Linked DNA regions of Homo sapiens. The protein of the gene in region 2 interacts with the protein of the main gene of each other region in a pairwise test. Each region holds a gene or a part of one and is shown on either strand. Other genes may lie near its edges.

The links. Proteins that work in one complex are often made in the same cells at the same time.
Region 1: the proteins of PTPRJ (region 2) and BAAT interact in a two-hybrid assay, tested with the Homo sapiens proteins (one large-scale study listed by BioGRID and IntAct).
Region 3: the proteins of PTPRJ (region 2) and PRDM14 interact in a two-hybrid assay, tested with the Homo sapiens proteins (one large-scale study listed by BioGRID and IntAct).

Annotation. Positions count from the first base shown.
Region 1 is NC_000009.12:101,360,921-101,364,575, forward strand, and holds part of BAAT (bile acid-CoA:amino acid N-acyltransferase), read right to left. Parts: intron 2,096-3,655; coding exon 1,508-2,095; 3' UTR 1-1,507. UniProt on the Homo sapiens protein: Catalyzes the amidation of bile acids (BAs) with the amino acids taurine and glycine. More than 95% of the BAs are N-acyl amidates with glycine and taurine.
Region 2 is NC_000011.10:48,123,534-48,127,188, reverse strand, and holds part of PTPRJ (receptor-type tyrosine-protein phosphatase eta isoform 1 precursor), read right to left. Parts: intron 3,577-3,655; coding exon 3,319-3,576; intron 2,222-3,318; coding exon 2,003-2,221; intron 1-2,002. UniProt on the Homo sapiens protein: Tyrosine phosphatase which dephosphorylates or contributes to the dephosphorylation of CTNND1, FLT3, PDGFRB, MET, KDR, LYN, SRC, MAPK1, MAPK3, EGFR, TJP1, OCLN, PIK3R1 and PIK3R2. Plays a role in cell adhesion, migration, proliferation and differentiation.
Region 3 is NC_000008.11:70,061,167-70,064,821, forward strand, and holds part of PRDM14 (PR domain zinc finger protein 14), read right to left. Parts: intron 1-3,655. UniProt on the Homo sapiens protein: Transcription factor that has both positive and negative roles on transcription. Required for the maintenance of embryonic stem cell identity and the reacquisition of pluripotency in somatic cells.

The DNA.
Region 1 (3,655 bases), on a different chromosome or scaffold from region 2:
AGAAAACATGTAAGAAAACATTTCTTGGTGCACAAGAAGGATAAAAATGCAAATGTATGGTATGTAAGATCATGTTAGCAGCCAGTGTTGGAGTAAGACATGGATCTTGACCCTATGGTTTTTGTGTAGACTGTTCCAATAAATCACAACCAGGAAGGCCAGCAAGTGTAGATGAGAGACAGGATACAGAATCCCTCATGATAAAGACTATGAGGAGAATGAAGTAGGAGAAGCTGATGAAAAGTGGGTGGATGATGGAGATCAGAATGATCCATCTCAATGAGATGAATTAGCAGATGTTTGTATGTCTCTAGATATTTAACTGACCCACTATATTCCTCAAGGATACTGCATTTGGACATAATACAAATTGGCAGTTTGGAATGTTGAACTTAAAGTCTTGCAAAATGTGGTACATGCTAGATGGTAGTTATGTTGCTATGAGGACTATATGATCAAAGCCTTATAGCAAAAAAAATTTTTTAATATTTGCAAAGGACTGTACAGCAAACAACCATGTGGTTGAATTACATGCAGTCCTCATATATTCAGTTGGTTAGCAAACTAAAGTATTTTTTATTTATGGGATGTACAGTAACTATTGGGTCTTACGGAAATATAGTACCTGTCCTTATAGAGCTCACATTCATGTGCTACTCTAACATGACTGAAGAAATTCATTATGGAAGTACAGTGATAGTTGACCCAATCACTCAGTTTATCAAACTCCCCAGGCTAGCCTGTACTAGTAGAGTTGTGTTTCTATTTTTATTTTTTACTTTTATTAATTTTATTTTTAATACAGATTTTCAGTAAGGGGCATTTTCAACCTAATTGGTTCTATTTTCTTGTATTTTCCATTTTAATTTGCTTCATAACTTAAACCAAGGCTCTTCCAGTCTTAGTTATTATGTCTCAGTTATGTGCCAATGGGCATGTTTTTAAGAACTGAAGAGGTAATTTATTGCAATGAACTAACTGACCTCCTCCATTCCTTCTTTCCTTTTTGACATGAATTTTACTACCCCACAAATGAAAAATGATGTTGCAAAGTTACTGTGGTGAAGTTGAAAAATATCACTAAAATGATTATAATTTAGTATTAATTTTCTCCTGCTGCTCTAATCTGATAAATTCTTACTATATAGTGTTTTCTGACATGGTATTTGGTTTTATATCTGTTACTTTGGTGCTATTCTTGTTTGCCTTTTCTTATTTTTGCCAGTGTACTATACCTCAGTCCTATTTAGAAGACCTGATGGAAAGAAAAGTCATGTAAATAATAAGTAAAATGATTTGTTTTATGATTTATTCACCATGTCCAGTTTGGTTAGCTTGTTATGCAGTATAAGTGAAATATCAGGTTTTTACCCTATGCTCTTTTTAATCATTAAAATTAATACAAAATGTGTGTGTGGCAGCTGGGGGAGACATTCCGCCATGAAAATTGAGAGAAGGTCCCGGTAAAGAGATTTGCTTCTTTATTTTCTAGGAATATCTAGTCTTCTTAGAGTTGACTGGTCACATCTGGAATGAGGTGCTTCCTGAGAAATCTCTGGATCTCCTTCCAAGCATGTTCCTGTGCAGCTGCGTGTGGGATCACCTCTCCTCCCCAGTGTAACCTCAAATCGTGGGTCGTTGAGGCACAGCACAGAGGAGAATAGGGAGGTTCTATCAGGTGGCCTGCCCCAGGGTAAGATAGCAGGGTCCAGTTGTTCTTCCCATGTCTCTTCAGCTGTCCTATGGCTTGTTCAGCGTGTGCTTTGCTGTTGATAGTCTTATCACCTTCTCCTACAATGAAGAGGAATTGCCCCTGGGCCTCTTCAATAGGAAACAAATATTGACTGGCCCCAACTTGAGTTGTCTCAAAAGTGCGATAGAGCTCTAGTAACCCCAAGGCATTGGTGGATATTAATTGTGCAGAATGGGGAAGGGGCTGATGGATCTGACCATGATATACCTGTGGAATGCCAAAAGGAAAGTTGGTCCCATTAATAAGTACCGTGGCTGTGACTTGCTTTAGGTAAATAGCCATAGATAGTCCAATCTGTACTCCTTGACATACAGAGACTACCCCAACGCCTGAGCCAAAGACCTGAAAAAAATAATAGAAATGAGAAATTATTCTAGCCTTCATTTAGGAAAACTCCACAATCTCAAACAACCAAAGAACTTCACTGGCTAATGAGAACAAAGCAAGTATTAATCCTACCCACATCCCTAGCTATAGAGTTCTGGAATATATAATATGTATTCAAAAGAAATACTCCAAAAATATGTCAAGCTTTACCGACTATATATTACGGATTCAGTATTGTGTTAGGTTCTGAGTTTAAAATGCCCTAAAGAAATGCAAATGTCGCAGGGAAAGTAAGAAATGGCACATGACTATTGTGAATAATGTGGGTCAGGGTATAGATGATTGGTACACTTTCCTCCCTTCAGAGGAAAGGGCACCTTGTAGGAAGAGACTGAGAAAGAAAGTGAGATCAGTAGGATAGAGTTGAACAGAGGATTCTAGATTTGCTTTGTTTTTTCCAAAAGTTTTCTCATTGTGGAGAAAAATGTCATAAAGGAGGCTTGGCTCAGCTTCCTCCCTCATTGTCAGTCATCAAATAAGCATCCTTAAATTATCTATCCTACGGCAAGCACTGGGAGTCACAGAGAGAAAAGGAACAATCTCTTGTCATTAAGGAACTCACTGCCAGATGAAGACACAGGAGGAAAAAAAAAAACACACCAGATGATTGGAGCATCATAAATTCTATGATATGAGAATGTATGTAGGCTAGACTGCCAACCCAGATTAGCAGGGAATAAAGGCAGGATCAAAGAAAGGCTCTCAGAGGAAATGGGCTACAAAACAAATGAGTCTTCGTATTAAAAAATGAAAGCCAAGCCTGGTTAACATAGTGAGACCCTATCTCTACAAAACTAAAAAATTAGTTGAATATGGCGGTGTGTGCCTGTAGGCCCAGCTACTCAGGTTGAGGTGGAAGGATCACTTGAGCCCAGGAGTTCAAGGCTTTAGTGAGCTATGATTGTGCTATTGTACCCCAGCCTGGGCAATAGAGTGAGACCCTGTCTCAAGAAATAAAAATTACAAGAAAGTCAACAAGAAGGAATGGTATTCTATGCTGAGTATAGCAGACTCTGTTAGTTGCCTACACAGGAGCCATTCTCCACAATTTCAAAGCTAATATGACCTTGATTTTGTGTGGCATAGCAATATATCCAGCCCCAAGGGATAAATTCTGATGGATCCTAATCTATTTCCCTTTCTCAGCCTCTCTTCCAAGGCCAACATATTCTACCTAAGGACTTTTTTTGCCCCCCGTGCAAACTGACACAGAATCATGAAGAGAAAGCCTATGTTTATGATCATTCTTTTCAGACTAGGATGCTGGCCTGTTGACTTAATTCCTGAAACTGCCAGAGTCATTTTGTGACCTTCAGAGTAAGGCTAGAAAATTGCAGAAATGTCAATCTAATCTCCTTGATTGAAAACTACACTGAGTTTCTAAGCCAAAGTTTGAACCACCTATCACCAAACCTGTTATGTAAGAGAATAAGATACCTTATGCTGATGTTTAAGCCACCATCAGCCACTTTTCTGAGAAATGTAGCCAAAACATTCCTAATGTATTCACCATAG
Region 2 (3,655 bases):
GGGCCCAGGAGGCTGACCTTGTGCAAGGCATCATGGGGGGTCTTGCCACATGGGCTGTGACCGGGTTCCACTATGAGCCAATGGGCAGGCCCCTGAAGGGCCACAGGAGAAAGGAGTCAGTGCCTTCCTCCATCACCTCCTGCTCTGGGCCTCCTGTCCTGACACAGCTGTGTCCACCACTGCCCCAGCTCTCACTGGGCTCCAGAAACACCCTGTCCTCCTCTAGCCCTTCAGCCCTAGAGGTGGCTTTCTGTCGTGTCTTGGGTGCCTCAACAATGTCCTCTGATGGTTTCCTTAACCCTGCCCCACCTAACTAGTCACTTGAAAAGTGCAGGGTGCTCTGGGGTGGGTGGAAATGTGTGTTTATCTGTGTGTGTGTGTGTGTGTGTGTGTGTGTGTGTGTGTGTGTGTGTTGCAACAGACTGAATGTTTCTGTCCCCATAAAATTCCTATGTTGAAATTGTAACCCCTGATGTGATGCTTTTAGGAGGCGGGGCTTTTGGGAGGTAATTAGATCATGAATTACCTCCCTCCTGAATGGTATTAGTGCCCTTATCAAAAAGGCTGGAGAGAAACCACGCCCTCACCCCTTCAACCACGTGAAGACCCAGGGAGTCTGCAACCTGGAAGAGGAAGAGGGTGTTTCACCCGGAGCCCAGGCATGCTGCACCCCAGTCTCAGACTTCCAGCCTCCAGAACCCTGAGAAATAAATGTTCATTGTTTACGCCATCTAGTGCATGGCCATTTGTTACAGCAGCCCAAACTGACTAAGACTTATCTATACACACACACTCGCCCCTTATAGAGAGGGAAAGGCTACTATAATGATTATTTACCAAGCATGAAGACAGTTCAACCCAAAGCAGGATGTGTGTGAATTCACACCACCAAGAGCCTGAGATGTAATCACTACTACTTTGCTTTTGCTCAAACTGCTTTAAAAAGCAGGGACCCCAGGCCCACACAAATCTACAAGTCCTTTTAGCAAATCAGTCAAAGGGACCTTCCCCTGGCTGGACCCAGCCCTGGGTGCATGGCTTGACGCAGGGCACACAGACCAGATTTCAGCCCCTTTCACTCTCTCACGCAAGCTTACCATGTGCAGGACACCCCACCACTGCCAACCGCACCCACATAGGAGCCCCTTCCTCCTCCTCCAACTAACCCACCCTCTGGAATCCAAGCCCTCCTCACCCGAGAGCCTCCCACCTGCCACTCCTGCCAGGTCACTGCAGGCCCCATGAGGTCAGGCAGCCTGTCCTACGGCCGCATCCTCCCCACCCACTCCCACATTAGCAAAACAAGTACAAAGGGAAGGAAGGACACAAATGGACCCTCCTTCAACATGGATACCAGGAAAAACTGTCATTCCTTACAGAATGGCTTCTCACCAATGTCTTGCCAAAACTTCTAGCCCTGTACAAGTAACACAGCCTGGCCAGTAACTACCTCTAAGTATTCCCAAATGTGTTCACCTCCCGCTCTTTTCACCAAAGCCTCCAAATATTGGTGAACTTACAGAGTGAAAGTGCTGATAAATTATAGCGAGGAAGCAGCAATGTGCATGTCAACAAGCATTTCAACAGAAAGATCGGTATGAATTACAAGGCGGGTGAAAAAATGAAACTCACTTTCATAACTTTCTTAACTCAAAGCAAAGGAAAAACAAGCAATGATTATTTGTTTTTAAGAGGAAAGTATGATGCCAGTTTGTCTCATCAGCCACCACGCAAAGCTGTGAAAGATGGCGTGAGGCAGTGCCTGGTGCCCGCACACAGGGGCTGCTCCATGTATTTGATTTCACTTAATGAGAGATGTGCACTGCCCATGGAGTTAAGAAGAAACTGAGCAGATCTGCTCTGTCCAAAATCTCCTCCAGGAAGCTCCCTCTGACATCAAAACTAGCTGTTATGCAAGAAATCACTCAGAATCAGAATCACAGGAGACAGAACATTGTGCTAGGAAACTCTGGCTGCCACCATTTTACAAAGTTCAACCTACTTGTCCTGAACTCTATGGCCTGGGGCTGTCCTTCTGTGCCATTCGCTGCTTGGGAATAAACGGTGGCATTGTATCGGGTGCCAGGCTCTAACCCGACAAGCAGGACTTCCGTGTCTCGGGACTGCTGGCCGGAGGATGGGTCCACAGGTCCCACGAGGGACTCATCATGCACAGGGGCGGTGGGGCTCCCTGCCCGGCTTCTCTCTGTATTGCTGGCATCTGTTTCAAGCACAGGAGACAAAAAGACATCAACCACAAGAGGGACACATCCCCCATTTTCCTTCGGAGCCCCAACCCCATCAGATGGCCATCAGACAGTGGCCACAGTTGGTGCTCCATCAATATCTGCTCCCTTCCTCCTCCAGAGAGAGAGGCAGCCCCATAAAAAGGCCTGATAGCTCCATCTCCATTTGTACTGTTATTCCAGTAGCACCACAGATATCTGGTGCTTCTCTTTCAAACTCTGCTTATTTCAGGTCATTCTCCCTTCTTTGGGTTGTTATCTTCTCCTGTCCCAGCATGGATTTCCAGGGACAGCTCTGTGAAGCAGACTTTGCTAATCAGACCCCACTCAAGACACGTTTCCCTGGACCAGACCCTGGTTGGTGGGGCAGCTGGCTGGTGGGGCAGCTGCAGGGTGTGAAACAGGAGCAGCTGGGCTCCTTAAGTGTGCAGAGGGAGCTGCTCTGAGAATGAAGCTGATGAACAGAAAGAAGCAAGAGGGAGGGATGAGAATTGCCTCATCTCTTTCTCTAAGGCCTCCCGCTAGCAGGAAAATCCACATGAGCCAATAAATTGTTCCTTCTGTCTGAGCTATCCAAAGTCTGGTTTCTGTCACTCGCAAGCAAGGATCCTGACACCCACTCTGTAGCTCTGTTTTCTTAAGTATAAAATGCAGATTAAGTGCCTGTCCTCCTCATGGAGTTATCCTGGGGATCCTCTGCAAATGCTATGAAACCTGCAAATGACAACGCCAACATCAACCAGCAGACGTGATAAGTTCCTCTGAAGGCCCAACTTGGGTTGACACAGCTGTTAGATAGAAAGCTAAAGGGGCCTCTAACTTTCCTGGGTGCCAGACTCTAAAAAGTTTCAATTCCTATTGCTGTTCTCAGCCCCAATGTGTTCCCCTGTAAAATCAGAACACGTTTCCTTCCTTCCTCATGCAGGTGGGGGATCAAACTAAAATGTGGAGGAAAAGCCCTTTATAAATTCTAAATCTCCATACACATGGAAGAGCAATTTATTTTTTAGAACATTTAGTTACTGAAAGTAAGAACCAGTAAGGGAGACGGAAGGTACCCTTTGTAACTCACCCAAGCCACCTTCTGTGCCCAAGGGGTCTCCCTTTGTCTTATTTGATTGTAGAAGATACGGGTTGATGTTGTATTGAACCCCTGGCTTCAGGCCCGAGATATTGACCTGAAGTCTTGAGTCTTGAGTCAACTCCTCATGGCTTCCAATGCTTTCAAGAAGAACCCGGCAGGAGGCAGTGCCATTGCCATTGCTCCAGGAGAGAGCAGCCTTCCTCACACCCGTGAGGGCAACACGGAGATCAGAAACTGGGATCGGCTCTATTTTAAAAATACAACATGCATTAATGGAACAAGATATATGCAGTCACCTTCATTAAGAATGACTGGGGTTCAGTGC
Region 3 (3,655 bases), on a different chromosome or scaffold from region 2:
GTCTATGTGTTGGGGGAAGGCGAGAGAACAGGGGCCACCTACAAAAGCATCCCTGCAGAGGACACTCTGGATCCCAGAGGATAAAGTGGCTTTGACTATGAATGCACCACAGAGATCTCATTGTTTGACCCCAGGGAGGAAGAGCAGCCAAGAGTGAGTCTATGCAAGAGTCTGCAGATAGAAATCTTCTCAGCATCAGGACAGCAGGGAAGCTGTCCATCAGGGGCTTTGTTAGTTGACAACTACATCCCAGGCACGTTTAACAGGTGGCTAAGGAAATAAACTATTCATTAAGTAAATAACCAGGAAGGCAACTGCCAGCCCCAAGCTGATCCATCGCCCTGCTCTGTCTATCACTTTCATTGAGGTGCTAATACTCTCAGAATCCCCGTGCTGGGACACTTTTTTGGCACAGAGGTAGAATTTTTATTGGTCAGAAATACCTGGCCTTCCTGCTTCCTGGGGTGGGAAGGGAAGAGAGGGTCAGCAATTTTACAAACCTAAGCACTAAAGCACACCAAAATTCAGAATAAAGTTTCAATACTGAGTTCGCTTAAGAACAACCACTTAGGTAGAAATGAAACCTAATTTCATCTTGTTCCCTATCCTTCCTAATTTTATCTTGTTCCCTATCCTCCCTCCCCCTAGCTCTTCACACCTCCACACCCCAAAACACACACCCAAATTCCCTCTCTCCCTCACAAGAGGGGAATGCTTGCATATTCAAATAACCCGCCCACATAGAGTCTAGACCCTTCCCTCACCACTCAAGACCTTAAAGAGGAAGGCTCCCACCTACCACCAATCCCCACCAAAAAGCCTTTGGGGAAAAAAACTCATTTGAGAATGCAATGGAATTTTAATTTTTCTTTCCTTTTTATCACATCCAAACCATTCATATTAACAGATTAACAAATTAACATTCATTTATAATTATTCCCAACAAATTAAGTTGTTTACAAGTTTCCCTCCATTGTCCAAAATATATGTCCTCATAATAATGCTGTAAGCATCAGGTATCACTTGGTTCAGAACTGGAACACAAGTATCTTATCTGCATGCTGGGTATCCCCTGCACTTAACCATCATAAGCCCTCATTCTGTTGCTTGCTCTGATTGCCTCTGATATCGGCATACTATTCCATGTTAATAACAAATAGGTTGAGTATCCTTTTTCTGAAATGCTTGGGACCAGAAGTGTTTTGGATTTCAGGTTTTTTTCGAACTTTGGAATATTTCATATACATAATGAGGTATCTTGGGGATGGAACCAAAGTCTAAATATAAAGTCCATTTATGTTTTGTTTTATACATACTTTATACACATAGCCTGAAGGTAATTTTTTTTTTTTTGAGACGGAATCTTGCTCGGTCTGCAACCTCCGCCCCCGGTTTCAAGCGATTATCCGGCTCCAGCCTCCTGAGTAGCTGAGATTACAGGCATCTGCCACCATGCCCAGCTAATTTGTTTGTATTTTTAGTAGAGACGGGGTTCCACCATGTTTGTCATGCTGTTCTCAAACTCCTGATCTCAGGTGATCTGCCTGCCTCGGCCTCCCAAAGCGCTGGGATTACAGGCATGAGCCACCGTGCCTGGCCCACCTGAAGGTAATTTTACACAATATTTTAAATAATTTTGTGCATGAAACAAAGTTTGTGTCAAGTACTGGTGTGTGGAAATTCCCACTTTTGGCAATATGTCAGTGCTCAGTTTCAGATTTTAGAGCATTTTGGATTTGGGATTTCTTGATTGGAGCTGCTGAGCCTGTATCATCATTTACTTAATTATTATACTACTGAACATTTAGGTTGTTTGTGATTTTTCACTCACAAGAGTGGTGCCACAGTTAAAAATTTTCATAAGCATAGCTTTTTCCTTTTGGACTATTTCTCGATAATAGATTTCCAGAAGAGTATTACTGAGACATCAAAGTTACAAACATTGTAATAATTTGATACATACGGTGAAAAAATTTCTCAAAAATGGCCGGCCATGGTGTCTCATGCCTGTTATCCCAGAATTTAGGGAGGCCAAGGTGGGTGGATCACTTGAGTCCAGGAGTTCAAGACCAGCCTGGCCAAAATGGCGAAACCCCATCTCTACTAAAAATACAAAAATTAGCTGGGTGTGGTGGTGCATGCCTGTAATCCCAGCTACTCGGGAGGCTGAGGCAGGAGAAATGCCTGAACCCTGGAGGCAGAGGTTGCAGTGAGCCTAGATTACACTACTGTACTCCAGTCTGGGTGACAGAGTGAGACCCTATCTCAAAAAATAATAATGATTTCTCAAAAGGATAATAACCATCTTGCCAGTTACTAAGCAGATACTTTTCTCAAATCCATTGTTCACTTTTCTTTCTTTCATTTTTCTTTTTGAGATGGAGTCTCACTCTGTCACCCAGGCTGGAGTGCAGTGGCGCCATCTCAGCTCACTGCAACCTCTGCTCCTGGGTTCAAGCGATTCTCCTGTCTCAGCCTCCTGAGTAGCTGGGATTACAGGCATGCACCACCACACCCAGCTAATTTTTTGTATTTTAGTAGAGACGGAGTTTCACCATGTTGGCCAGGCTGGTCGTGAACTCCTGACCTCAGGTGACCCAACCACCTTGGCCTCCCAAAGTGTTGGGGTTACAGGTGTGAGCCACCACGCCCAGCCTGTTGACTTTTATTTCGAAAGGAGTTGGTACATTTCAGGAAGTGACCAACAGGTCTTGGTTTGGTGCTAAGTAGGAGACAACTTAGAGCTCCACAGATCATAGAGAATCCCAACCATTTTTGCCTCCATTCCTATCTTCACCTACATTCCCACACCCACACCACCCACCAAAACACTTCTGGTCCCAGGCATTTCAGAAAAAGGATACTCAACCTGTATGCAGATATCAGAGGCGATCAGAACAAGCAACAGAATGAGGGCTTATGATGGTTCAGTGGCGGGGGGAACCCAGCATGGACATAAGATACCTGGGGGAGTAGGAAGATAGTTCACCAAAACAATCCTGACAGCCCCTCATCATTGGGACCATTATTTATCATTAGATAAATAATGACGGCTGACTGCTCATTATTTATCATTAGATAAATAATGACTGCTTATTATTTACCCCCTAATTTCTGGACATTTCCTTGCCTTCTGCTTCACTGTTCCCTGAGCCTGATTGCCTTCCCTCTCTCCCTCTTACACGTGCCTTATTTCATCTCATCCCTAAGCAGCTTTTTCTAGCTTAGTTCTAATGTCTTCCTCTCAGTCAGTACGCACTGGGATCCAGAAGCACGAGATACTAAAGTGTTTAGGGTTATTTCCTGCCCTGAAGCATCTCAGCCTAGCAGGAAAACAGGCATGCAGATGCAATTTACTTTTTTTTTTTTTTTTTTTGAAACGGAATCTCGCTCTGTCGCCCAGGCTGGTGTGCAGTGGCGCAATCTCAGCTCACTGCAAGCTCCCCCTGCTGGGTTCACGCCATTCTCCTGCCTCAGCCTCCCAAGTAGCTGGGACTACAGGGGCCCGCCACCACGCCCGGCTAATTTTTTTGTATTTTTAGTAGAGAAGAGGTTTCACCGTGTTAGCCAGGATGGCTATGATCTCCTGACCTCGTGATCCGCCCGCCTCACCTCCCAAAGTGCTGGGATTACAGGCGTGGGCCACCACGCCTGG